7 linked regions of the Homo sapiens genome follow. The gene in region 7 interacts genetically with the main gene of each other region. Each region holds a gene or a part of one and is shown on either strand. Other genes may lie near its edges. The genes, in order: VPS45, DAZAP1, GEMIN5, SREBF2, SLC39A3, PTEN and EED.

Region 1 (3,500 bases), on a different chromosome or scaffold from region 7:
AGAACCTCTCTGAGAGGTGATATTTAAGATGAGCTTTGAGTCATAAGAAAGAACCAGACCAGACACGGTGGCTCACGCCTGTAATCCCAACACTTTGGGCGGCCAAAGCGGGAGGATCACCTGAGGTCAGTAGTTTGAACCAGGCTGGCCAACATGGCAAAACCCTGTCTCTACTAAAACTACAAAAATTAGCCTGGCGTGGGTAGCAGGCGCCTGTAATCCCAGCTACTCAGGAGGCTGAGGTAGAAGAATCGCTTGAACCTGGGAGGCGGAGGTTGCAGTGAGCTGAAATTTGCACCGTTGCACTCGAGCCTGGGCAACAGAGTGAGACCCCATCTCAAAAAAAAAAAAGCAATCACACTATGATTAGGAGAGAAAGCATCCAAAGCAGAGGGAAACACCAGAGCAAAGGTCTTGAAGAAAGAGAGAATTTGGCAAGTTAATGGAACAGAAGGGAGCCCTGCTTGGCTGGAGCATAGTGAATAAGGAGGAAATAAGAGGTTGAAAGATAGGTAGGGTTGGATCACATCGGTTCTCGAAGACCCTAGTAAAGAGATTTTTTTTTAATGTCATAGGAAGCCATTGAAGAGTTAAGCATATGAGTAACATGAACTTAATTGTGTTTTAAAAGATATTTGTGGTAAGAATGGATTATTGAAGGCAAAAATAGAAGCAGAGAGACTACTGAGGAGATGAATGCAGTAGTCCAGGTGAGAAATGGAAGTGGTTTGGGTAGGAGGCTGAGAGAGAAGCCAGAATCAATAGTCATATTTAATGGCACAGATTTATGGAACAAGGGTAAGAGAGAAGTCAAGAATAACTCTCAGGCTTTGAGGAGAAACAGAGTTTTGTTGTTCAGTTGGAGATGTCTATTAGATAACAAGTAGAAATGTCACATATTGAGAGTTGACAAAAACATTAGTAATATTAAAACCTCTGGAAATGTTGAACTGCTCCAGATTAAACATGGAAAAGGCAACTAGTTGGGGAAATGGAAACAAGAGGAGAGTGTATTGGATCATGACAAAGGTATTGGTGAATGAATTGGAGATTTGATGAGGCCAAAGAATTATTACAGAAGAGTATTAGTACAGGTAAATTGGAAGTTGAGAGGTAGTTATTGGATAAAGATATTTTGAATTCAAGATTTCATAGGGGGTTCAGATACTTGTAACGAAGAAGTTTAGATTGTAAGCATGGATGTGGGTGGTTGTAGTGGGTAAAAGAAAAGATCAGGATTGGTAAGGAGACCAGGATGTTAGATGAGTAATCCACAGTGATGTTAAAGTCACTGACAATCTTGAAAAGAGAAGGAGAAAAAGGAGGACAAATAAGCCAGAGCTAAAGTCTTCATGGAATAAAAGTGACCAGGAAAGGAGGTCAGGAGAAAACGGTGCAGCTACATTATGAGCTTCTAAGATAGTGGAAATTTTGAAGGAAGAAGGCAAAGAAATGGTTACAAAACTACAGTGGGTGTCACAGAACATACCTATACCACCTCCTGGCCATGCCTAACAGAAGGAATACTGCAAAGGACTTGAAAATACTCTTATTTACCAATTCTACTTCTAAAAGCTTACTGTATAGATATTCCTGTGCAAGTACACAAAGATACTTAAGCCAGGATGTTCACTGAAGTAATAGCAAAAAAACTAGGAACAAGCTAAATATCTATTAATAGAGGGCTGGTTACCTAAACTACAGTACAATATTACGTATTCTTTTTTTTTTAAATGACATAACTCCTCACGGGTGATATGCAAAGCTTTTTAAGATATATTAGATAGAAAAGCAGGATGTTGTAACATTTCTTTCTTTTTTTTTTTTTTTGAGACAGAGTCTTGCTCTGTCACCCAGGCTGGAGTGCAGTGGTGCCATCTCGGCTCACTGCAATCCCCGCCTCCTGGGTTCAAGATTCTCCTGCCTCAGCCTCCTGAGTAGCTGGGATTACAGGTGCATGCCACCATGCCTGGCTAATTTTTGTATTTTTAGTAGAGATGGGGTCTCACCATGTTGGTCAGGCTGGTCTCGAACTCCTGACCTCGTGATCCGCCCGCCTCACCTCGTGATCCGCCCGCCTCGGCCTCCCAAAGTGCTGGGATTGCAGGCATGAGCCACTGTGCCCAGCCATAACATTTCTTTCAGGTAAAAAAACTGTATAATCCTGGGTGCAGTGGTTTATGCCTATAATCCCAGCACTTTGGGAGGCCGAGCGGGCAGATTCTTTGAGGTCAGGAGTTTGAGACCAGCCTGGCCAACATGGTGAAACCCTGTCTCTACTAAAAATGCAAAAATTAGCCAGGCGTGGTGGCATGCACCTGTAGTCCCAGCTACTCAGGAGGCTGAGTCAGGAGAATCGCTTGAACCAGGGAGGTGGAGGTTGCAGTGAGCCGAGATTATGCCATTACACACCAGCCTGGGTGATAGAGCAAGGCTCCGTCTCAAAACAAAACAAAACAAAACAAAAAAAGTGTACATGTATATAAATATGTGCTTGACTATACATATGTATGTATATTATATATATAATATATTTTCACAAGCACATATATGTATAAATACAGTAACTCTTTTTGTTTGTTTGTTTGTTTTTTTGAGACAGGGTCTGGCTCTGTAGCCCAGACTGGAGAGTGGTGGCGTGATTTCAGCTCACTGCAGCCTCCACCTTTTGGGCTTAAGCCATCCCACCTCATTCTCCTAAGTAGCTGGGGCTACAGGCACATGCCACAGTACCTAGCTAATTTTTGCATTTTTATAGAGACAAGGTTTTGCTATGTTGCCTAGGCTTGTCTCAAACTCCTGAGCTCAAGCAATCTGCCTGCCTCAGCCTCCCAAAGTGCTTGGATTACTGGCATGAGCCACCATGCCCTGCCTACAGTAATTATTTCTGAAAGAATAATCAAGAAGTTGTTAATAGTCGTTACCTCTGGATATTGAGACAGTAGTTAGTTACATATCTATCCTTCCTATTAGTTATTGTATTAGGTATTGTAATCTTGAAGTAAGTATTATGTTTTGTTAATCTTTGGGGTTTTCACAATGTTTAACACAGTGATTTACAAATAATAGGTGTTCAATAGATGTTTGGTAAATTCTATAGGCATCTCTTCTAGTTGATATGCCAATATTTATAGTTGGAAAATTTAAACCAGAGAATAAACTTAATTGATGCTATACAAAATTTAGATTTTTGAAGTTCATAAACAACCCTTTAAAACATTCTGGCTCTGTATTCACTTGGCCACACTATCAGCTCTAGCCACTTTCTTGGCCCTGTATTATCATATTGAAAAGAGTCCTTGATTATAGTGGTATTTATTATTATTTGTCTCATCATAATAGAAATTCTAGGTTTTATTGTTGCTATAATAATAGAAAATATCAAAGGAAATGTGGCAAGAACACAACTTTGCAAAACCAGAACACTGGTGGAAATTTTTTTAGCCCTTAGCTGTTAAATTAGTGTTTAAGCTGTTTGGCAGTATAGCTATATCCACAAA
Region 2 (3,500 bases), on a different chromosome or scaffold from region 7:
GGACCTCGGCCTTCAAGTTGTGTCTGCCCGCCTCTTGCTACTGTCTTGGATATTTTAAAGTCCTTTTGACGTTGTTCTGATTTCTGGGCAGGGGACAGAGTAAGTGTGTATTTGCTCTGAGACTGTTAATTTGGTATTTCCATCCCAAGTTACAGGGAAGACCTCAGGCTGCAGGTTCCTAGCTCCGGGCTGAGGTGGCTTGTGGAGGCAGACAGCTGTTGTCTGGAAGTGCAGAGGGCTGGGGGCTGGCCAGGCTGTTACTGAGTTCAGAATAGGAGGAAAGAGTGTGTAGCAAAGTCGGCGCTCCTTGGCCACTGCCAGCATTCAGAGTTGTCTTGTTTGCCTTGCCTTAAACGTTGCCTTCCTGGACGCCTACAAAGTCAGGTTGTAACCGCTGGCCACTGCTGTGCTCACTGGCAGCCCCTGATTTACGTGAGGACCTCAAGTGTGTGTTGGGCAGAATTCCCCAGCGCTTCCCGTACACCCCCCACCCCCAGTGCAGCATCGCTCGGTGCGTGGCTGGTGGACTGGAGGAGTGTGCGTGCCGGCAGCACTGCCAGGCACGTGCCTAATGCTCTGGCCCTGTGTGTTTGTGTTTTCTTCCCGATTTCTGAGCAGAGACTCTGCGCAGCTACTTTTCCCAATATGGAGAAGTCGTAGATTGTGTTATCATGAAAGATAAAACCACCAACCAGTCTCGAGGCTTTGGGTTTGTCAAATTTAAAGACCCAAACTGTGTGGGGACGGTGCTGGCCAGCAGACCGCACACGCTAGATGGCCGAAACGTAAGTGCCCTTCCGGGAGCTCACACCCGCTCTCTGTCTCCCCTGTCCTTCCTCTGCTTCATTTTTTCCTGGACTCTGACCGATGTTTGCGTTAGAGTATGTTTGAACGTGGGGTCGATTGGGAAGGATTAAGCCTTGGTGCTGAGGCTGGATATTGCAGGAGGATACAGGGTGAATGGAGCCGGCGGGGCGGGGCGGGCCGGGCTGCTGTGCCGTGGCTGCTGTTGTGCTGACACCCTCTTTCCTAGAGAAACAGCCTCTTATTCACAACCAGCTGATTTGAAATTTCCTGCAGATCGACCCCAAGCCATGCACACCCCGGGGGATGCAGCCGGAGAGAACACGGCCGAAGGAAGGATGGGTAAGGGGCTGGGCCGGGCGGCCTCCTTGTGTGTTCTCCACTCCACGTGGAAAGGAAATGCGTGCCTTCAATCTGCTGTTGTCGCTCGTTAAGATTGAGGGCGACGCAGGTCTTCTGGGTTGGCACTCGAGCAGCTGAGGATCACCCAGATTTATCAGTGCCGTGAGTGTTTTACAGCCAAGAAAATTCTTACTAATCTATCTTAGGGAAAAAAAAAATGACAGCTCATGCCACTGATTATCAGGAGCCAGTCAGCTTCCCTCTGTGCCCTGTGTGCCCTCTGTGCCGGGCCTGCCCCCTCCCACTGCCTGGCCCTCCTCAGAGGTGGGCCATCCTTCCACTGCCGGGGCTGGGCCGGGCTGTGTCAGCTCGTGCTGGCCACTTTACTGCTCCACTTGAGATCCCCTGACGTGGCAACTTGGGTTCTCTGACCTGCGCCCTGGTGCTTGCCTGGCCGACAGGGCACTGTCCTGGCATGGGGTCTCCTTGGCATTTGGGTCTCACCACCACCCACACCTCACCTTCCTCCAGCCCTGCAGTTCTCACACCGGCACCAGGAGCCTGGTGGGGCGGTGCAGATGGGAAAGCTCTTAGCCCCATAGAACGTGCTGGACAGTGCAGACCTGGAGGCCTGCTGAGGCACCGGGTGCCAGCCTCTCCACAGTGTGGGCAGCAGGGTGGGGTCTATATGTATTTACATCCATCTCTGTCCACATACACCATTCCTAAGGACCGGAGGGTGCGTCTCCTAAAATGACGGCCACCCCTCGCATGCACCCACCGTCAGCACGCTGGAAAGCGGCTGCAGGGAATCCCGTGTCATCTGTGTCCAGGCCGTGTTCCCAGCTCCAGAATTGTTTCACAAGTGTCTCTCATAGCTGGTTTTTTTCAGACTGGAATCCAAGGTTCATATTCCATCTGGTTATTAATGTCTCTCTAGCTTTTCTTAAGATATAATGGGCACGTAGTAAACTGCACCACTTGATGATTCTGACCCATACAAACACTCATGAAACCATCCCGACCGTCACGGCAGCGAGCACTCACCCCACGCACACACTCATGAAACCATCCCAACCGTCACGGCAGCGAGCACTCACCCCACGCACACACTCGTGAAACCATCCCGACCGTCACGGCAGCGAGCACTCACCCCACGCACACACTCATGAAACCATCCCGATCGTCAACGGCAGCGAGCACTCACCCCACGCGCACACTCATGAAACCATCCCTACAGTCACGGCGGCGAGCACTCACCCCACGCGCACACTCATGAAACCATCCCTACAGTCACGGCGGCGAGCACTCACCCCACGCGCACACTCATGAAACCATCCCTACAGTCACGGCAGCGAGCACTCACCCCACGCGCACACTCATGAAACCATCCCGAACGTCACGGCGGCGAGCACTCACCCCACGCGCACACTCATGAAACCACCCCGAACGTCACGGCGGCGAGCACTCACCCCACGCGCACACTCATGAAACCACCCCGAACGTCACGGCGGCGAGCACTCACCCCACGCGCACACTCATGAAACCACCCCGAACGTCACGGCGGCGAGCACTCACCCCACGCGCACACTCATGAAACCACCCCGAACGTCACGGCGGCGAGCACTCACCCCACGCGCACACTCATGAAACCATCCCGACCGTCACGGCGGCGAGCACTCACCCTCAAAGGTTTATAGTCTTTTATTCAAAGCAGTTGGAACAACTTAAAATGTGATAGCCTTGGATAGGGAAAAAAAAAAAAAAGGATGGTTGGTGGGTGGGGGCAGGAGGAGAGCAGCCCCAGCCCTAAGGGCAGCCCGGGAGCTGGACCAGAGACTCCTGGCTCTGGCCACCCAGTGAGCGCCGAGGCCCCGGGAAGTGGTGCCCAGGAGCAGGCGCCCTTGCCAGTGGGAGGCCGGCAGAAGGGGCTGTGTGGTTTGGGCCAGTGTTTCACACAGCTCTTGAGCTGCTGGAGGTTTCCGTAGCCATCATTGTCACCTGCTGGAGATGTACAGCCTGAAATCCAGCTTCCTCTCTGCTCATTTCGTCGTCGCTGCTGCCTTTCCCCTGCCGTCCTAAAGTCCCTGCCTTCACACTGGAGCACTTTTCCACGTGGCAGTGGTTGTAATTCGGAATAGCTGAGGCAAGGCACGCACTGTGTCGTGGGTCCGTTTAGCTGAAATGTAGCTCTGCAGAAATGCTCAATCCCTGTCTCCTTGGGTCTCTCTAGAAAAGTGAGAAAGTGTCTCAGCAGAGCCCAGTGTCTTTGGACTTAGCGGGCTTGTGGAGTGTTCTGCTCTGGCTTTCAGCTGACTCTTTAAACCAGCGCGGATTGGCCTTTATGTCCTCCG
Region 3 (3,500 bases), on a different chromosome or scaffold from region 7:
GACCTAGAAGCTACCACCACTGTGGGAACTTGCAAGCTCTCACCCCCTTACGTGGAGTTTGTACGCGGCTTTCTGTCTTCTCACAGAAAAAAAATGTGTGAATGGTTATTAGGTTTTTCTAGTGAGTTAAGCTGTAGTGATGGCTCTCAGATGTCTCACAAAACAGTGTTCTATCACTAACAAAAAAACTGTTAGGTAAAAATTTTAGCACTCTTTTTATTTTGTACATTTACTCGGGACCTGTTGAGAATGGTTTGTCAGACCAAGTGATAAATATCTGGTCCCTGGTAAAATAAACGATTAAATAGCAAACAGTGTAAGTAGAAGCAGTAACTCATACTTAATTCTAAAACAGAATCCATTGATGTGACAGTATTGAAATGGCTAGAATATAGGATACAAGGCATTCCTGATGCTCTCCATCCCAAGGGATAGCTGTTAGACACATAGTTGGGGTAAATAAAGAGCAAAAAGCCTAATGGATTTATTATTTTGGCTCATCAGAATGCTTTTCTAGTCGGGTACAGAGACACATACCTCTAGTCCCAGATCCTCAGGAGGCTGAGGCAGGAGAACCGCTTGAGGCCAGCCTGGGCAACACAGCAAGACCCCCCATCTCTTTATTTTTCTTTTTTTTAAAAAGTCTTTCTTTCACAAAATGGCTATACAAAACATGGATCAACAAGTTGTTTTTAAAAAGTTCCTGTGCTCAGGATTGTGACACCATATTGCATACACCTAGTATTCTCTATTATTAAAGTTACTCCTGTTAGTGTAATTAAATATGCAATTAGTACTTTATGACCTAGAAATGTAAAAAGTGCTTTGTCACCTGAGCAAAGTATAGGAACTCCTTGGCTTATGGTATAAAGTTGTGGAGGGCTGGAAGCTTTTTCCTTAGTCAAAGTTCAAAGTAAGGCGGGCATGGTGGTTCATGCCTGTAATCCCAGCACTATGGGAGGCCAAGGAAAGAGACTTGCTTCAACCCAGGAGCTTGAGACTAGCCTAAGCAACATAGGGAACCCCCATCTTTGCAAAAAATATAAAAATTACCAAGATAATGGCTTGTGCCTATAGTCCTAGCCACTCTGGGAGGCTGAGGAGGGGAGGATCACCTGAGCCCAGGAGGTTAAGGCCTCAGTGACTGTGATTGCACCCACTGCACTCCAGCCTGGGCAACAGTTATATCTTATCTCTAACCAAAAGAAAAAAAAAAAAGTAAGCCAGGAGCGGTGGCTCACGCCTGTAATCCCAGCAGTTTGGGAGGCTGAGGCAGGTGGATCACCTGAGGTCAGGAGTTTGAGATCACCCTGGCCAACATGGCGAAACCCTGTCTCTACTAAAAATACAAAAATTAGCCAGGCATGGTGGCTTGTGCCAGCTACTGGCGAGGCTCAGGCAGGAGAATTGCTTGGACCTAGGAGGCAGAGGTTGCAGTAAGCCAAGATTGCGCCACTGAATTTCCAGCCTGGGCGACAGAGTGAGACTTCGTCTCAAAAAAAAAAAAAAAACCAAAGTAATAGACTTACAGATTCCTGAAAACAGCTAGTTTGGGAGGTGGGAAAGGGGAAACTACTCCTACTTCTTTTCCAGTGCATTTTATCTCAAAAGTTTTGGTAATAGATGAATTGATTATATTGCTAAGCTTGGAATGGCTCTTAATTTTTACAAAGAACTGAAATTCTGTATTATTGTTATCCTTAACTTTTTTTTTCCTTTTTCCCCCATGATGTAGTTTCTAGAGAACCAGTTATCTGCACTCCAGTTTCCTCAGGCTTTGAAAAGTCAAAAGTCACCATTAATAACAAAGTCATTTTACTGAAAAAGGAGCCACCAAAAGAGAAGCCAGGTTGGTATCTAGTAATTAAAATACAGTATTTTGTTAAAGCAGCCTAAAATATTACATATATTACACGCAACTGTCAAAAAACAGTGTGGTTTCTTGTTTGTTTTTATAGGTTCAAAATATTTGTAGGTTTTCTGATTATGGGTTTTTTGTTTGTTTTTTGTTTGTTTTGAGACAGATTTTCACTCCAGTCACCCAGGCTGGAGTGCAGTGGCACACTCTTGGCTCACTACAAACTCCACTTCCCGGGCTCAAGCGATCCTCCTGCCTCAGCCTCCCGAGTAGCTGGGATTACAGGCGCCCGCCACCATGCCCAGCTAACTTTTGTTATTTTTAGTAGAGACGGGGATTCACCATGTTGGCCAGGCTGGTCTCGAACTGCTGGCCTCCAGTGATCCGCCCGCCTCAGCCTCCCAAAGTGCTGGGATTACAGGCGTGAGCCATTGTGCCCAGACTTCCACTTCCATTTTGGGTCATGCTTTTGAATTTTTTTTAGCACTTGATGAAATGTTTTGCAGTTGTTGACACTACATCATAAATGTTAGCAAGAGCGTTTTTGTGTGTATTGTGAACAATGCCCCCAGCAAATTTATTTTGAAAGCCTCTTTATTAGGAGGAGGAGCTTTCTCTGCCTGTGGTGTCGTCCTGCCAGTAGGTTACATTCACACAATAGGCATTCCGTTTTATGTTTCTGATCAGTTCTCCTTCAGATAGTATGTACTTTATTAAATTTCAGAAACCTTAATCAAGAAGAGAAAAGCTCGTTCCTTGCTTCCCCTGAGTACAAGCCTGGACCACAGATCCAAAGAGGAGCTTCATCAGGACTGTTTGGTACTAGCAACTGCAAAGCACTCCAGAGGTACAAAAATGTACTTCCTTGGCCCATCCATAGTCTTCCGGGACTGGTATATAAGGGATGTTTACTTATTTATTAAATGAATGCCCAAAGAAATGTCTAAATTGTTTTCTGTATTTTTATGTTCTCCAGCTCTCCCTTCCCTCCACATCCCTATACCCCTACACCTTGCTGCCAAACTCCCCATTGTGACCCACCGTCAGCACTGCCATGGCTTTGAAATGTAGCGCTCTGCTTTTATTCTAAATCTAATTCCTCCCAGCCATCTGTGTGCCAGAATTGGTATGTTGGCCTAAGTATCTCAGCATGAATAAACTCCTTCAACTCTTTTCCCCATTGAACAGTATCCTATGGAGAAAAAAATCTTTTTTTCTTATTGGAAATATGCTCATAATATGGCATTTTTTTAGAAAAAAATTTGATGGAAGCTTTTGCTTTGTAAGTTTTGTTTTGAAGGGTTGTTTTATTTTTGTTTTTCAAAGTCTTCATTTAATGTCCACTATTTTGATATTTTAATAACTTTATTTTTTAAATTTGAAGTTTACATGTGGAAAAGGGATGCACATAATAAATAAAATTGATGCTTAAGGGGCTGAAGCAGAAGGATCACTTGAGCTCACTTTAAGGCCAGCCTGGGCAACATAGTGAGACCCTCTCTCTATTTAAAAAAAAAAATTTTTTTTTAATTTTTTTTTCAAAGTAAATCTTCCTCCCAGTCCTCTGTTTCTCCTCCCCAGGAATGGAGGACCATCCTCCCTCCCGGTTACTGTCTCCCACTACCCTAACAAGGGTAGTCAC
Region 4 (3,500 bases), on a different chromosome or scaffold from region 7:
CTGACTTCAGGTGATCCACCTGCCTTGGCCTCCCAAAGTGCTGGGATTACAAGCATAAGCCACCACCCCTGGCCTATTTACATTTAATTATGATTTATTTTTCCTATCCTTCTGCAAGCATATATATATATATATATATATATATATATATATATATACACACACACACACACACACACAAAATATCAAAATATATATATATATGTATATATATATATATTTTTTTTTTTTTTTGAGACTGAGTCTCGCTCTGTTGCCCAGGCTGGAGTGCAGTGGCACGATCTCTGCTCACTGCAAGCTCTGCCTCCCGGGTTCACTCCATTCTCCTGACTCAGCCTCCCGAGTAGCTTGGACTACAGGCGCCCACCACCACGCCCAGCTAATTTTTTGTATTTTTAGTAGAGACGGGGTTTCACCGTGTTAGCCAGGATGGTCTCGATCTCCTGACCTTGTGATCCGCACGCCTTGGCCTCCCAAAGTGCTGGGATTATAGGCGTGAGTCACCGCGCCCGGCCCAAAAAATCTTTGTGTTTTTTTGTTTGTTTGTTTTGTGTTCAGAGAAGGGATCTGGCTAGGTGCCCTGGCTCATGCCTGTAGTCCCAGCACTTTGGGAGGCCAAACCGAGAGGTTGCTTTTCAGGAGTTTGAGACCAGCCTGGGCAACATGGTGAAATCTCGTCTCTACAGAAAATACAAAAATTAGCCGGGCATGGTTGGCGCACACCTGTGGTCCCAGCTACTCAGGAGGCTGATGTGGAAGGATCGCTTGAGCCTGGGAGGTGGAGGCTGCAGTGAGCTGAAATTGCAACACTGCACTCCAACCTGGGTGACAGAGCAATACCCTATCTCAAAAAAAAGAGAGACAGAGTCTCGCTGTGTTGCCCAGGCTGTTCTCAAACTCCTGACCTCAAGTGACCCTCCCACCTTGGCCTCACAATGCACTGGGATTACAGGCATGAGCCACCACAACCGGTCTCAGCAGCTTTCTGTTTGTCAGATATACAAATATACCCCAGGCTCCAGGCCCCCACATCCCCCAAAAAACACACACACACACACACACACAGCATCAGAGACCTGAGAAGGACATCTTGGTGGAGGTTTGGGGGAATGGAGATGGTTCCTTTTATTTTTTTATAGTGGTGGTGTGGTGGTTTTTGTTGTTTTGGTGTCTAAATCAGAGCATCACATGGCCTTGAAGGTTTGGAAAGGAGGGGCCATAGTTCAAGAACAAGCAGTAGCTTCTTGGGAACGTATTGGAGAGAGAAAAGAGAAAAGAATATGGACAATGTAGAGAATTGTAGGTCTGAAACTATCTGGGACAAAGCTGAGGCTCCTGACTTCTATAGGGACCAGTCATATGAAAAAGAAGGGAGTCGTGAGAGATGATGGGGTAGTTGTGGGTTAAGTTGGGTTTTGGAAAGCCTTTGGGAAGATTGACCAGGGAAGAGGCCCTGGAAGTAGGCTTGAGACCCTTTGGGCTGGGAATTTAAGGGTCCCAGCTACTTGGAACATGATCTAGAAAGGGAAGCGAGGTCTCCAGGTGGACAAATCCCTTTGGACCCAAGACTCCTTGCCCAGAGAAAAGGGGCACAACCAGACAAGGGCTAGCATGGGCCCTGGGAAGCACGGAGTTCAGGGTGGGGCAGGCTTGCTGTGTCCTGGCCTGGCAACATACCTGCACTGTGTTGTGGTAGAAGAACACAAAGCTGGGAGGCAGAGAACTGGTTCTAATCCTAGCTGTACCCTGACAAGCTGTGTGACCTTGGCCAAGTTACTTTCCTCTCCTGGACTTCATATATGGTTTTTCCATTCTTTGCATCCCTGAAGCTCCATGACTTAGGGGCCATCAACTTGGTTGTCCCTGAGTGTTTCCAAGAATACCAACAGTGCCCAGGGTTTTACTCAGCTTGGAGAGGAGGCCTAGAGCCTCCCTGTGGTGAGGAGGAAAGAGGTTAGAGCAAGTTTGGGTCTGCAGTGCTAGGATTAGAGGTGGCCTCACAAGCCAAAACCGCTATACTCACAGCCTTAGGACAGTGACTCCCTACTCGCTGCCTCAGTGTTTCCAGCTGTAAAAAAGGACCCTTGGTACCTTCGACAGAACAGCACCCATCTAGTACAAAGGTAGTTCCTTTTATGATCAAAACAATCAGGAAAAAGAGAGAGGCTGGGTGCGGTGGCTCACACCTGTAATCCCAGCACTTTGGGAGGCTGAGGTGGGTGGATCACCTAAGGTCAGGAGTTCGAGACCCACCTATCAATATGGTGAAACCCTGTCTCTACTAAAATTACAAAAATTAGCCGGGCATGGTGCCGTGCACCTATAGTCCCAGCTACTCAGGAGGCTGAGGCGGGAGAATCGCTTGAACCCAGGAGGCAGAGGTTGAAGTAAGACAAGTTCGCGCCACTGCACTCCATCCAGCGTGGGCGATAGAGGAAGACTCCGTCTCAAAAAGAAAAAAGAAAGAAAATGAGAGAAAGGGCCTGGAGGTGAGTGTGAGGAGGGAAAAGAACATCAAACAGATAAAGTCCTGTCCTGTTGTCCTGGGACCTTGGGCAGCCATCTTGGCCCAGATGATCCCCACAAGAAAGAGGTAAGGGTTTCCTGACCCATTTCTGCCATGGTCTTAGGAAAGTCATTGAGTTTTCATGCCTTAGTTTCTTAAGCAAGTTTGAAAGTTCACTTTTTGGATAGCAATAAAATTACTCCTTTTCTTTTGTTCACAGAGATGCTGCAATTTGTCAGTAATCAAGTGGGAGAGTTCCCTGACTTGTTTTCAGAACAGCTGTGTAGCTCCTTTCCTGGCAGTGGTGGTAGTGGTAGCAGCAGCGGCAGCAGTGGCAGCAGCAGCAGCAGCAGCAATGGCAGGGGCAGCAGCAGCGGAGCTGTGGACCCTTCAGTGCAACGGTCATTCACCCAGGTCACATTACCTTCCTTCTCTCCCTCGGCGGCCTCCCCACAGGCTCCAACTCTGCAAGTCAAGGTTTCTCCCACCTCAGTTCCCACCACACCCAGGGCAACTCCTATTCTTCAGCCCCGCCCCCAGCCCCAGCCTCAACCTCAAACTCAGCTGCAACAACAGACGGTAATGATCACGCCAACATTCAGCACCACTCCGCAGACGAGGATCATCCAGCAGCCTTTGATATACCAGAATGCAGCTACTAGCTTTCAAGGTGATTCAGAAGTTAGAATGGTAGTGGTTGGTTGGTTCCAATGTTTATGTGCCAGTTTGCAGACACTGTAAATATTTCTGTCGTCTTCAGGAATGGCAGGTATATCAATATGGTCCTGTCTGAATGAGGTTCTGGTAACTGGCAATAAGAACTGGTACAGGAGCATGTCACATTCTGCAGCTTCAAATACCTTAATATCTATTGCGCCTAATTCAAAAATACTTGGTTAAAAAATCCAGCAAGCGGCCGGGCGCGGTGGCTCACGCCTGTAATCCCAGCACTTTGGGAGGCCAAGGCGGGCGGATCACGAGGTCAGGAGATTGA
Region 5 (4,288 bases), on a different chromosome or scaffold from region 7:
TTGGTATTTTTAGTAGAGATGGGGTTTTGCCGTGTTGGCCAGGCTAGTCTCAAACTCCTGACTTTAAGTGACCTGCCTACCTCGGCCTTCCAAAGTGCTGGGATTATAGGCATGAGCTACCACATGCAGCCCTGTTTTAGGGTGTTTCAAAGGCTGCAATTGAAGTGAAGCAGTCATCCAAAGGCTCAACTGGGGCAGGACCCTCTTCCATGATCACGTTCATGGCTGTTGGTAGCATTTGGTTCCTTATGGACGCTTGTGCTGAGGGTCTCATTGCCTTGCTGACTGTTGGCTGGAGGACACCCTCAGTTCCTTTCCCTCTGGATCTCTCCAGCATCTTAGCTTGCTTTGTCAAGACACGTAGGCTGAGAAGGCGAGAGACAGGCTCTGCTGGCAAAACAGAAGTCACAATCTCTCATAGCCTAATCGCAGAATGACATCCCATTCATTTGCCATTTTCTATTTGTTAGAATCAAGTCATCAGGCCAAGCGCAGTGGCTCATGCCTGTAATCCCAGCACTTTGGGAGGCCAAGGTAAGAGGATCACCTGAGGTCAGGAGTTCAAGACCAGCCTGGCCAACATGGTGAAACCCCGTCTCTACTAAAAACACAAAAATTAGCCGGCATAGTGGCACACGCCTATAATCCCAGCTACTCGGGAGGCTGAGGCAGGAGAATCGCTTGAACACGGGAGTCGGAAGTTGCAGTGAGCCAAGATCGCGCCATTGCACTCCAGCCTGAGTGACAAGAGCGAGACTCTGTCTCAAAAAAAACCTTTTTTTTTTTTTTAGAGATGGGGTCTCACTATGCTGCCCAGGCTGGCCTTGAACTCCTGGACTCAAGCGATCCTCCCGCCTCGGTCTCTTAAAGTGCTGAGATTACAAGTGTGAGCCACTGCGCCCTGCCAAGATTTGGTTTTTAACTTACGCGTTACCTCCTATACTTATTTTTTCATGGTTTGAACATGTAACATCTACTTTCTTAGCAATTTTGCAGTATGCAATGCATTGTTACGAGCTGTAGCCACCATGATGTACAGTCGATCTCTTGGACTTACTCCTCCTGCCTATCAACAGAGATTTGTTGAAGGGATGAATCTGCTTCTTCAGCCGTCGGTAAGGGGATCAGCAGCGAGGACGCTGAGAGAGGAGCCGCCTCCGTTGGAAATCCCTTCCCATCCACCTCCAAGCCTCTTTCCAAGCGGGATTCAGCACCAGGCGCCCCTGGACAGCTCTGGAAACCCAACCCTGCCGGAACCGTTCCTCGCCAATCCGGGTTTCCCGCCGGGGCCGCTTGGTGGCTGCGCCCGCCGCTCAGCGGGAGGAAACCCCTTTCCTGTGCCGGTAGGAGAGGTGGAGTCGCATATGAGTGGCAGGTTTCGCAGCCAATAGTATGGAAAGTTCTGCCAGCGGGTCTCGGGGAGGCCAATGGGCAGGGGCGTGGGCGGGGCGTGGACCAGCCGCGCCGAGCGGGGCCTCTCCGGGCCGCGTCTGTGGGGTCGAGACTGCGCGGCCGTTGGGCGTGCAGCGGCGCCAGTCGGCGGACGAGGGGCCCCCGGGAGGTAGGTGCGGGCAGAGAGAGGACCTGGGGCGGCGGGGCGGGGCGGCGCTGAGCGGCCGGGGGTCTGTTGGACTCTACCCGCACGTTAGCCGAGGCCCGTCTCCGGTGCCCGGTAGCGCGAGGCACACAGAAGGCGCTCAATAAGTGCTGATTGAATGAATGAGCCCGTGCCCTCCTCATCCCGGCCCGAGCAGCCTCCGGTTTGAGAGCGTGCAGGCCACCCTCACCTTCACTGTACAGACTGAGGTATCCAGATGCCGGACAGGTCTTTATTGGGCGCCTACTGTGTGCCTGGGTGGCTCTGCGCTGGGTGCAGCTGGCCCTGAGCAAGACAGACAGCCTGGTCCCGCCCAGCTCACCGCCGGGGGGGAGGGACGACTTTAAATGACTTAAAATAATGTAATTCCTAGCTCCCTCTGTAGCACAAAATAAAAGAAAATAACACCAGGGAAGGGGGCGGGGAGAGCTCTGAGTGGAGACATCTGAGCAGTGACCCGAAGACCTGAATGCAGTGAGGTAGCGGGGCCATGAGGCGCTTGGGGCTGATGGTGGGGGAGAAAACCCAGTTGGGGAAAACTCAAGGACAGGGGAGGAGCTGAGATTCCTCCTAAGAACGGTGACATTTTGGGGTCCAGGGTGAAACCGACTTCACTTTGGCCCATTGCATCAGGTAAAATGCGGCCCTTATCAGTGGCCACACGCTTCCCCTCGTCCATGTGTTCAGCCAGCGGTTTTTGAGTATCTGTTCTGCAGCAGGCCTTCCGGCGGGTACAGGGATATGGTTTAGGGCAGGAGTCAGCCAGGGGCAGAGAGGGAGGCCCTTTTTTTTTTTTTTTTTTTTTTTTTGAGACGGAGTCTTGCTCTGCAGCCCAGGCTGGAGTACAATGGCGCGATCTCGGCTCACTGCAAGCTCCACCTCCTGGGTTGAAGCAATTCTCCTGCCTCAGCCTCCCGAGTAACTGGGATTACAGGCACGTACCACCATGCCCAGCTAATTTTTTTTTTTTTTGAGACAGAGTCTTACTCTGTCACCCAGGCTGGAGTGCAATGGCTTGATCTTGGCTCACTGCAACCTCCACCTCCTGGGTTCAAGTGATTCTCCTGCCTCAGCCTCCCAAGTAGCTGGGATTACAGGTGCCCACTACCACACCCAGCTAATTTTTGTATTTTTAGTAGAGACAGTGTTTCACTGTGTTGGCCAGGCTGGTCTTGAACTCTCGACCTCAGGTGCTGGTCTCGAACTCTCGACCTCAGGTGATCTGCCCACCTCAGCCTCCCAAAGTGCTGAGATTACAGGTGTGAGCCACCACTCCCAACCGAGGGAGGCCCTTTTGAGGGGTCCTGGATGCAGAGAAGCAAGAAAGAAGAAGGAGGCCTCGCTGGAAGGTCAGGGGAAAGAGAGCAGTGTTCCAGGTGGAGAGAGGAGAACCCATGCAGAGGTCCTGAGGCACGAGCAAGCTTGGCACAGAAAGGACCAGTGAGGGCCGAGGCGAGGCAGGAGCTTGTCATGCAGAGCTTCAGCCTCAGGGTACAGAGTTTAGACTTTATTTCGGGGCATGGGGAAGCCATGGACCACCACCATCCAATAGCATGTTCTGCAGTGATGAGAGTGTTCCCTTTGCTGTCAAATACGGTAACCACAGAAGTCAAGTAGGCTTGTGTGACTACTGAGCGCTTGAAATATGGCCAGGGAGACTGAGGAGCGGAATTTTGTATTTTATTTAGTTTTTTTTTTTTTTTTTTTTTGAGATGGAGTTTTGCTCTTGTTGCCCAGCCTGGAGTGCGGTGGTGCCATCTTGGCTCACTGCAACCTCTGCCTCCTGGGTTCAAGCGATTCTCTTGCCTCAGCCTCCAGAGTAGCTGGGATTACAGGTGCCTGCCACCACGGCCGGCTAATTTTTGTATTTTTGGTAGAGACGGCGTTTCACCATGTTGTCCAGGCTGGTCTCGAATTCCTGACCTCAGGTGATCCACCCACCTCGGCCTCCCAAAGTTCTGGGATTGCAGGTGTGAGCCACTACACCCAGCCTGGATTTTTTTTAATTTTGATGAACTTTTTTCTTTTTTTGAGACAGTGTATTAGTCAGGGTTCTCTAGAGGGACAGAACTAATGGAATAGTTATATATATAAAGGGAAGTTTATTAAGTATTAATTGCACACGATTACAGGGTCTCACAATACATTGTCTGCAGATTGAGGAGCAAAGAGAGCCAGTCCGAGTTCCAAAACTGAAGAACTGGCCAGGTGCAGTGGCTCACGCCTATAATCCTAGCACTTTGGGAGGCCGAGGCAGGCGGATCACGAGGTCAGGAGTTCGAGACCAGCCTGGCCAACATGATGAAACCTCGTCTCTACTACAAATACAAAAAAAATTAGCTGGGAGTGGTGGCGCGTGTCTGTAATCCCAGCTACTAGGCAGGAGAATTGCTTGAATCCAGGAAGCGGAGGTTGCAGTGAGCGGAGATTGCACCATTGCACTCCAGCCTGGCAACAGAGCGAGACTCTGTCTAAAAAAAAAAAAAGAAAAAAGAAAGAAAGCTAATGCAGTGCCCCTGATGTTCACAGTTGCTGGACTGAGACATGAGCCTCCAACTGTGTGGTTGGGCTCGGTAGCACATCGTGGGACTTGGGTGTGCGCCCACAGATGGTTTGGCCCTGCAGTGACCAGAGCAGCCCAAGCCGCCACCATGGTGAAATTGCTAGTGGCCAAAATCCTGTGCATGGTGG
Region 6 (3,500 bases), on a different chromosome or scaffold from region 7:
AGTACCTGCCACATTGTAAATACTTAAATGGTAGCTACTGCTCTGAAAAACTGTAATTTCAGGTTATGTATGTAGGGAAATTATTTGTATTTTCATTTATGGTGTATGATTGTAACTGAATTTCCTCAGTTTGGGCCATGTTAGGATTTTGTTTCAAGTTATAAGTGTTTTTAAAAATAAGGGTATTCCTTTAGGAAGTCTGGGTATGACATGTCTGTGATTTTGCTGGTTCATCACAAATGGGAAATAAATCTCTGCTAACTCAAACTGTTGACCAAAGTAAAATTAATTATGCCAATCAAAAACTATTTGCTTTAAAATATAAAAGGCAAAAACTTCCTATTAGCATAATGAAGTAGAATTTTTAAACTTTGTTATAATCTTAAATTTTCTTTAGTGTTGAAGATAGGTCAACTTAACTATCATACATTTTTATTCACATAAAGTAAACTCTGCCTCAAATGTAATAAACTTAATATGAGTTATGTAAACTTTGGTCAATAGAGGTATATTTTTTAGCATTTCCTTTTGAAAATTTCAGCCTTTTGAGGGAGTCTTGCAACTGAATGTCAAGTTACATTTATTACAATAAAATGGACACTTAATATAATCTGTAATGCATTAACATAATATGGGAACTTTTAAAGTATTCAGTCTCTGTATTATTGAGTCCTATTTCCACATTTGGCCAGGATTCTCAATATGATTTAGGCCCAAGACGTGGGAAGAAAGAAGTAAAGAACTAAAGGATTTTTTTCTTCATTTTTTTAATTGAATATGGGGAAAGATGGAATAAGCTTATCTGTCCAGTAAAGGCCATTATGTGTACATAGGGATTATTATTTTTCCCCCCCTTGGGCTGTACTGATTTCCCAGATGTACCACAGCACTCTTAGTAGTGAAGCACTTGACTTCTAGTGAGTGGATTTTTTGTGTGTGTGTTTTATATTGCAGAGTGAATACACTCTGTCTGATACTATGTGACTTTCTGATTATGTGATTTTTATGCATTTTATGTGTTTTGTAAACTAGCTGTATTTTTGGTCCATGTCTAGGTTGTAGAATTGAATTGTGCATTTTGGCATCTGAGCACAGCTGAGTTTTCTAAATCAATCTCTCTCCTTGCACCTAGTTTTTGCTTTAGATCACTACCTAAGACTTACTGTTGATTTAATATTAGAGCACTTAAGCATAGCTTTGACTTTTATTTCCTTTGATTTTTGTAGATTTTCAGGCTGAAGTACAATAAGGTTCTCTGTTCTTTACTAGTAATTGCAAAGATTGTATTCTGTGAATTTTATTTGTTTAATACTTTTGATCTTTTGAAGAGGATGTAATTATTTAAGGTATTATGAAATGCATTGTGATTTGAATTAGATACTCTTTGGAGATGGAGTTTTGCTGTTGTTGCCCAGGCTGGAGTGCAATGGTGTGATCTCGGCTCACCACAGCCTCCGCCTCCTGGGTTCAAGCAATTCTCTTGCCGCAGCCTCCCAAGTAGCTGGAATTACAGGCATGCGCCACCACGCCCGGCTAATTTTATATTTTTTTTTTCAGTAGAGATGGGGGGTTTCTCCATGTTGGTCAGGCTGGCCTCGAACTCTTGACCTCAGGTAATCTGCCTGTCTCAGCCTGCTAAAGTGCTGAGATTACAGGCATGAGCCACTGCGCCCGGCCTCAGATACTCTTTTAATTAGATGCGTTTAAAAATTTAACCCACCATTGCTGGCATGAATAGATGTATTTTTAGAGTGATTCATAAATATCGTATACATGTTTAAAGTTACAAACTTTTTGCTTATTTCAAAATGCAGGATTCTTTTCCATTTAAAATTCCCTCTCTTTGTGAGACTTCTTTTTGAGTATTCTGGTTACTCTAAACTGATTGGAGATGAAATTAGATAGAATTGAAAACTGTACTTTTAAAATGAAATTTTGGGGATGTCATTAAGCTTGATTTTTTAGGTTTTTTTTTTAGTGTGTATTATAAATTATTTTACACTGATTGTCAGCGATAAAATGGAATGCCTGGGATTTTTTAAAATTTATTTTATTCATTTTTATAAGGTAAAAACAGTGTTTTGCTAGGCTTAATTTGACCATGTTGTAAAATTTATTGTATACCTTGAAAGAATCATTTATGAAAGATACTGAATTAGCTAATATATACTCTGTCTTATGTAGTTTTTGATTAACAATACACTTTTTAAATCATTAGCTCATTTGATTTTGCAAAGAAGAACAGGTAACCTAAGAGGCAGACAGAACAGGCATTACTTTTATTTTTCTTTCTTTTTTATTTTATTTATTTATTTATTTATTTATTTTTTGCAGCTTAGGAATTGTAGCTCCAGTGGAATCAGTATCTTGTTAATGGCTAGTGAAAGACTGAGTCTGAAGAAGGATGCAGGACTTTTTTGGCACTTGGTGCAGTATTTTTCCCATTATGTTACATGAGTGGTTCTTAAACTTCAGTGTGTTAGAACAACCTGAAGGGCTTATTAAGCTATGGATTGCTTACTCCACCCTCAGAGTTTCTGATTCAGTAGGTCTGGATTGGGACCTGAGAATTTTTATTTCTTAGAAGTTTTCAAGTGATGCTGATGCTGGTGCTCTGGGGATCACACTTTGAGGACCACCAATGAACATTATCTCCCACCAAGCAAACCCTTAACATGTTATACTCCTTTAGGTTATTAGAATTTATACATGCATTATTTCATTTGACCTGTAAACTCTAAGTAACTTTGCATGGAAAATGTTATCCTGATTTTATAGACGAGATAGTGAGTTTAGAAAGGCAGTATGGTGGAATGGAGCATAGATTTGGAGTTGGCTAGACCTAAAGTCCAGATTAAATCTCTGCTCAAGGCTGGGCGTGGTGGCTCATGCCTGTAATCCCAGTGCTTTGGGAGGCCAGCGTTGGCAGATTGCTTGAGTCTGGAAGTTCGAGACCAGTCTGGGCAACATAGGCAGACCCTGTCTCTACAAAAAAAAATACAAAAATTAGTCGGGTGTTATAGTGCGCATTGGTAGTCCCAGCTACTGAGGAGGCTGAGGTGGGATCACCTGAGACTGGGACTTTGAGGCTGCATTGAGCTGTGATTGGGACACTGTACTCCTGCCTGGGTGACAGAGTGAGACCCTCTCTCAAAAATAAATAAATAAATACATCCCCGCTCAGCCACTTATCAGTTACGTAGATACACTGCCTAACCTTAGTGAACCCTGTTTCGACAACTCCAAAATGGGAGTAAAAATCCTAAACTTGTACAGTGGTTTTTTAGTTTTGTTAAAAGTACAGGTGAGGTTTTTTTCAGAGTATTGGTTGCCATCTGAGAGTGATCCCCTTTCACCTCCTCTAGGACTTTTAGCATTTTCTGGAGACATTTTGGTGGTCACAGCTGGGGTGGTAGAGTGTGCTATTGGCTAGGGGCTTGAAGCCAGTGATGCTGCTTAACATCCTATATGGCACAAGACCCCTCCCCATCAACAAAGAA
Region 7 (3,500 bases):
AATACTACATATGAAAATTCATATTGCTTTTTTATTTTTTAAAAAAGCTTTTGTTTTATAAAGGATTTCCTATAGAATTTCTTAAAAATGCTACGTTTTTCAGGATAAGTTATTTGAAATATTCCCATAAAGGGAAAGCATTGCATTTTGGAAATCACTACCTCTAGGAAGAGTTGATTACTTTTTCTTGTCTCTTGATAACACTAATTGGGGCTCAGATATTTCTGAACAACTGTATAGACCGTAATGCCTCACTTGTTCTAAATATTACAACTTTTTTTTTCTCTTTTCTTTGTTTTTTGGTTTTTTTTTTTTTTTTTGAGACAAAGTTTCGCTCTTGTTGCGGAGGCTGGAGCGCAATGGTGCAATCTCGGCTGACTGCAACCTCTGCCTCCCGGGTTTAAGAGATTCTCCTGCCTCAGCCTCTCGAGTAGCTGGGATTACAGGCATGTACCACCATGCCCGGCTAATTTTTGTATTTTTAGTAGAGATACGGTTTCTCCACATGGGTCAGGCTGGTCTTGAACTCCTGACCTCAGTTGATCCGCCTGTCTCAGCCTCCTAAAGTGCTGAGATTACAGGTGTGAGCCACTGCGTCCTGCCTCTATTTATTTATTTATTTATTTATTTTTGAGACAGAGTCTTGCTTTGGCGCCCAGGCTGGAGTGCAATGGCTCTATCTCGGCTCACTGCAACCTCTGCCTCCTGGGTTCAGGTGATTCTCCTGCCTGACCCTCCCGAGTAGCTGGGATTACAGGCGCCCTCCACCATGCCTGGCTAATTTTTTTTATTTTTAGTAGAGATGAGGTTTCTCCATGTTGGCCAGGCTGGTCTCAAACTCCTGACCTCAGGTGGTCCACCCGCATCGGCCTCCCAAAGTGCTGGGATTATAGGCGTGAGCCACTGCGCACAGCCCAACATCACAACTTTTAACCCTGGTCTTCCTCTATTGTGTCAGTAAGAGCATTTTTAAAAATCAGAAGTTTGAGCATGAATAAGAATTTTGCTCCAAGTGATACTATCAAGAAAGTAAAAAAGCCTACTCAAAAGGAGAAAAAATATTTATAAATCATTCTGATAAAGGACTTTGATTTTTATTTTTTGTTTTTGGAGACAGGGTCTTGCCCAGTCACCCAGGTTGAGTGCAGTGGTGTGATCATGGCTCACTGTAGCCTCAACCTACCAAGTAGTTAGGACTACAGGCACGTGCCGCCATACCTGGCTAATTTTGTAAAAAATGTTTTTGTAGAGATGAGGTCTCCCTGTGTTACCTAGACTGGTCCTCAAACTCCTGGCCTCAAGCAGTCCTCCTACCTTGGCCTCCTAAACTGCTGGGATTACAGGCATGAGCCATGATTCCCAGCTAATAAGGGACGTGTATCAAGAATTTTTATAGCTCAACAATAAAAAGACAGCCCAATTTAAAAATGGCCAAAAGTTCTGAATGACATTTCTTCACAGAGCATACACAGATGGCCACTGAGCACATGAAAAGATGTTTAACATATTAATCATTAAGGAAATACAAATCAAAACCATAATGAAATACCACTTCACACCTACTTAGGGTGGCTGTAATAAAAACGTTAGATACTAACAAGTATTGACTGGCACAAGAAGAAATCAGAGCCCTCTCAGACACTGCTGGTGGGAATGTAAAATGTAACTACTTTGAAAAACAATCTGGCAGTTCCTCAAAATGTTACAGAGTCACTAATCCTAGATGTTTACATATGTATGTATATCCTAGGGTTGTGTGGGTGGGGGTGTACATATGTATCCCCAACAGAAATAACATGTCCATACAAAAGCTTGTACAAAATTGAAATCAAGGAATCATTTTTACAGCACTGTTAATTTTCACATGTATTACTACCTCTGGGGTGTTTATGTGATGCATTTATATTCACAGACAGAATGAACATTGTTATATTTCAAGCTTACATGACGTGTCTTTGCTTTACATTCTTTCTTTTTTTTAAATACTGTTTTAGAGACAGGATCTCACTCTGTCAACCAGGCTATAGTAGAGTGATGTGATCACAGCTCACTGTAGCTTGAGCTCCTGGCCTCAAGCAATGTTCCCACCTCATCCTTCTGAGTAGCTGGGACTACATGTGCACACCACCATGCCTGGCTAATTTTTAAAAATTTTTTGTAGAGATACGGTTTCATTATGTTGTCCAACCTGGTCTCAAACTCCTGGCCTCAAAAGATCCTCACACCTTGGCCTCCCAAAGTGCTGGGATTACAGGTGTGAGCTACTGCTGTACATTCTTTATTAATGTTTAATATAACATTGCTCAAATTATAGCTGCATAATTTTTGAAGAGGGACTGTCATTCTATAAAATTGTGCATGATATATGTAGTTATGTTTTCAGCTTACTGTAAAAATCATAAATCTCAGTCCCCTTTCAATTTTTTAATGTGAGTATGGTGAAGGGAAAAGCTAGTATCTTGTTCTGTGGGATAAAATTGCTTATGTCAAATCTGTATTTTATTTCAAAAGTATATTTCCATCAAATTAGGTTATTTAAAGAAAGTTATTTGAGATAAATATGCTTAAAATATTTTTCAGACCACATGAATATTTCTGAACTTACTGTCTTAGTCCACTTTAACCTGGCATTAGAAAGTAAGAACAAGAAATTGAACTTGAAGCCTTTTTTTTTTTTAATATATAATTGGAATTAATTCATTCATAAGAGTGGTACTCTCATGACCTAACGCTTCTCATTAGGTCTCATCTCCCAACACTGCTGCATTGGGATTAAGTTTCCCAACCTGCTTTTTCGGGGGTTCATTTAAGCTGTAGCATTCTGCCTCTAGCCCCCAAAATTCAAATCCTCAATCAGATATGGGTGAGACTCAAGGCAGGATTCCTGCTGAGGTAAATTCTCCATCTGTGGGTCTGGGAAATCAGGCATCTTATCTATTTTCAAAATACAGTGGTAGGATAAGCATAGGATAGACAGTCCCTTCCAAAAAGGAGAGATAGGCAAGAATAAGGGTAACTGGTCCCAAGTAAATCCAAAACTCAACAGAACAAACAAGATTAAATCCAAGGCACCAGAATAATCTTCCTTGGCTCCATGTTTTGCCTTCTGGGCATGCTGGGTGTGGAGTTTGGGCCCCAGAGGCCTTGGGCAGCCCCATCTTTATGGGTTTGCCACGTGCAGCCCACATAGCATCTTATGAGTTGGAGTCGGGTGCCTGCAGCTCTTGCAGGCTGGTGGTGTGCCCTGGTAGCTCAGCAGTTCTGGGATTTGGGGGATGGCTTTTTCCCCATGGCTCCACCAGGTGTTGCTGTAGTAGGAACTGCTGTGTGGCTCTGCCCTTCTGAAAAGTTTCTGCCTGGAGCCCCAGGCTCTTTGTGATGTCTTTTGAAATCTAGAGAGGAAGCCGTGCCTCCACAGTTCCTGCATTCTCTGCATCTGCAGACTTAACACCACATGGACACTGCCAAGATTTGCTGCTTGTACCTTCAGAAGCTATGGC

Evidence for each region.
Region 1: changes in EED (region 7) and VPS45 together harm fitness less than expected from each alone (positive genetic interaction), as found in Homo sapiens cells (one large-scale study listed by BioGRID).
Region 2: changes in EED (region 7) and DAZAP1 together harm fitness less than expected from each alone (positive genetic interaction), as found in Homo sapiens cells (one large-scale study listed by BioGRID).
Region 3: changes in EED (region 7) and GEMIN5 together harm fitness less than expected from each alone (positive genetic interaction), as found in Homo sapiens cells (one large-scale study listed by BioGRID).
Region 4: changes in EED (region 7) and SREBF2 together harm fitness less than expected from each alone (positive genetic interaction), as found in Homo sapiens cells (one large-scale study listed by BioGRID).
Region 5: changes in EED (region 7) and SLC39A3 together harm fitness less than expected from each alone (positive genetic interaction), as found in Homo sapiens cells (one large-scale study listed by BioGRID).
Region 6: changes in EED (region 7) and PTEN together harm fitness more than expected from each alone (negative genetic interaction), as found in Homo sapiens cells (one large-scale study listed by BioGRID).

What each region holds. Positions count from the first base shown.
Region 1 is NC_000001.11:150,095,276-150,098,775, forward strand, and holds part of VPS45 (vacuolar protein sorting-associated protein 45), read left to right. Parts: intron 1-3,500. UniProt on the Homo sapiens protein: May play a role in vesicle-mediated protein trafficking from the Golgi stack through the trans-Golgi network.
Region 2 is NC_000019.10:1,417,586-1,421,085, forward strand, and holds part of DAZAP1 (DAZ-associated protein 1), read left to right. Parts: intron 1-618; coding exon 619-785; intron 786-1,080; coding exon 1,081-1,146; intron 1,147-3,500. UniProt on the Homo sapiens protein: RNA-binding protein, which may be required during spermatogenesis.
Region 3 is NC_000005.10:154,903,712-154,907,211, reverse strand, and holds part of GEMIN5 (gem-associated protein 5), read left to right. Parts: intron 1-1,735; coding exon 1,736-1,849; intron 1,850-2,582; coding exon 2,583-2,705; intron 2,706-3,500. UniProt on the Homo sapiens protein: The SMN complex catalyzes the assembly of small nuclear ribonucleoproteins (snRNPs), the building blocks of the spliceosome, and thereby plays an important role in the splicing of cellular pre-mRNAs.
Region 4 is NC_000022.11:41,864,105-41,867,604, forward strand, and holds part of SREBF2 (sterol regulatory element-binding protein 2), read left to right. Parts: intron 1-2,726; coding exon 2,727-3,176; intron 3,177-3,500.
Region 5 is NC_000019.10:2,737,218-2,741,505, reverse strand, and holds the start of SLC39A3 (zinc transporter ZIP3), read left to right. Parts: upstream 1-1,488; 5' UTR 1,489-1,561; intron 1,562-4,126; 5' UTR 4,127-4,248; coding exon 4,249-4,288. UniProt on the Homo sapiens protein: Transporter for the divalent cation Zn(2+). Mediates the influx of Zn(2+) into cells from extracellular space. Controls Zn(2+) accumulation into dentate gyrus granule cells in the hippocampus.
Region 6 is NC_000010.11:87,870,125-87,873,624, forward strand, and holds part of PTEN (phosphatidylinositol 3,4,5-trisphosphate 3-phosphatase and dual-specificity protein phosphatase PTEN), read left to right. Parts: intron 1-3,500. UniProt on the Homo sapiens protein: Dual-specificity protein phosphatase, dephosphorylating tyrosine-, serine- and threonine-phosphorylated proteins.
Region 7 is NC_000011.10:86,258,253-86,261,752, forward strand, and holds part of EED (polycomb protein EED), read left to right. Parts: intron 1-3,500. UniProt on the Homo sapiens protein: Polycomb group (PcG) protein. Component of the PRC2/EED-EZH2 complex, which methylates 'Lys-9' and 'Lys-27' of histone H3, leading to transcriptional repression of the affected target gene.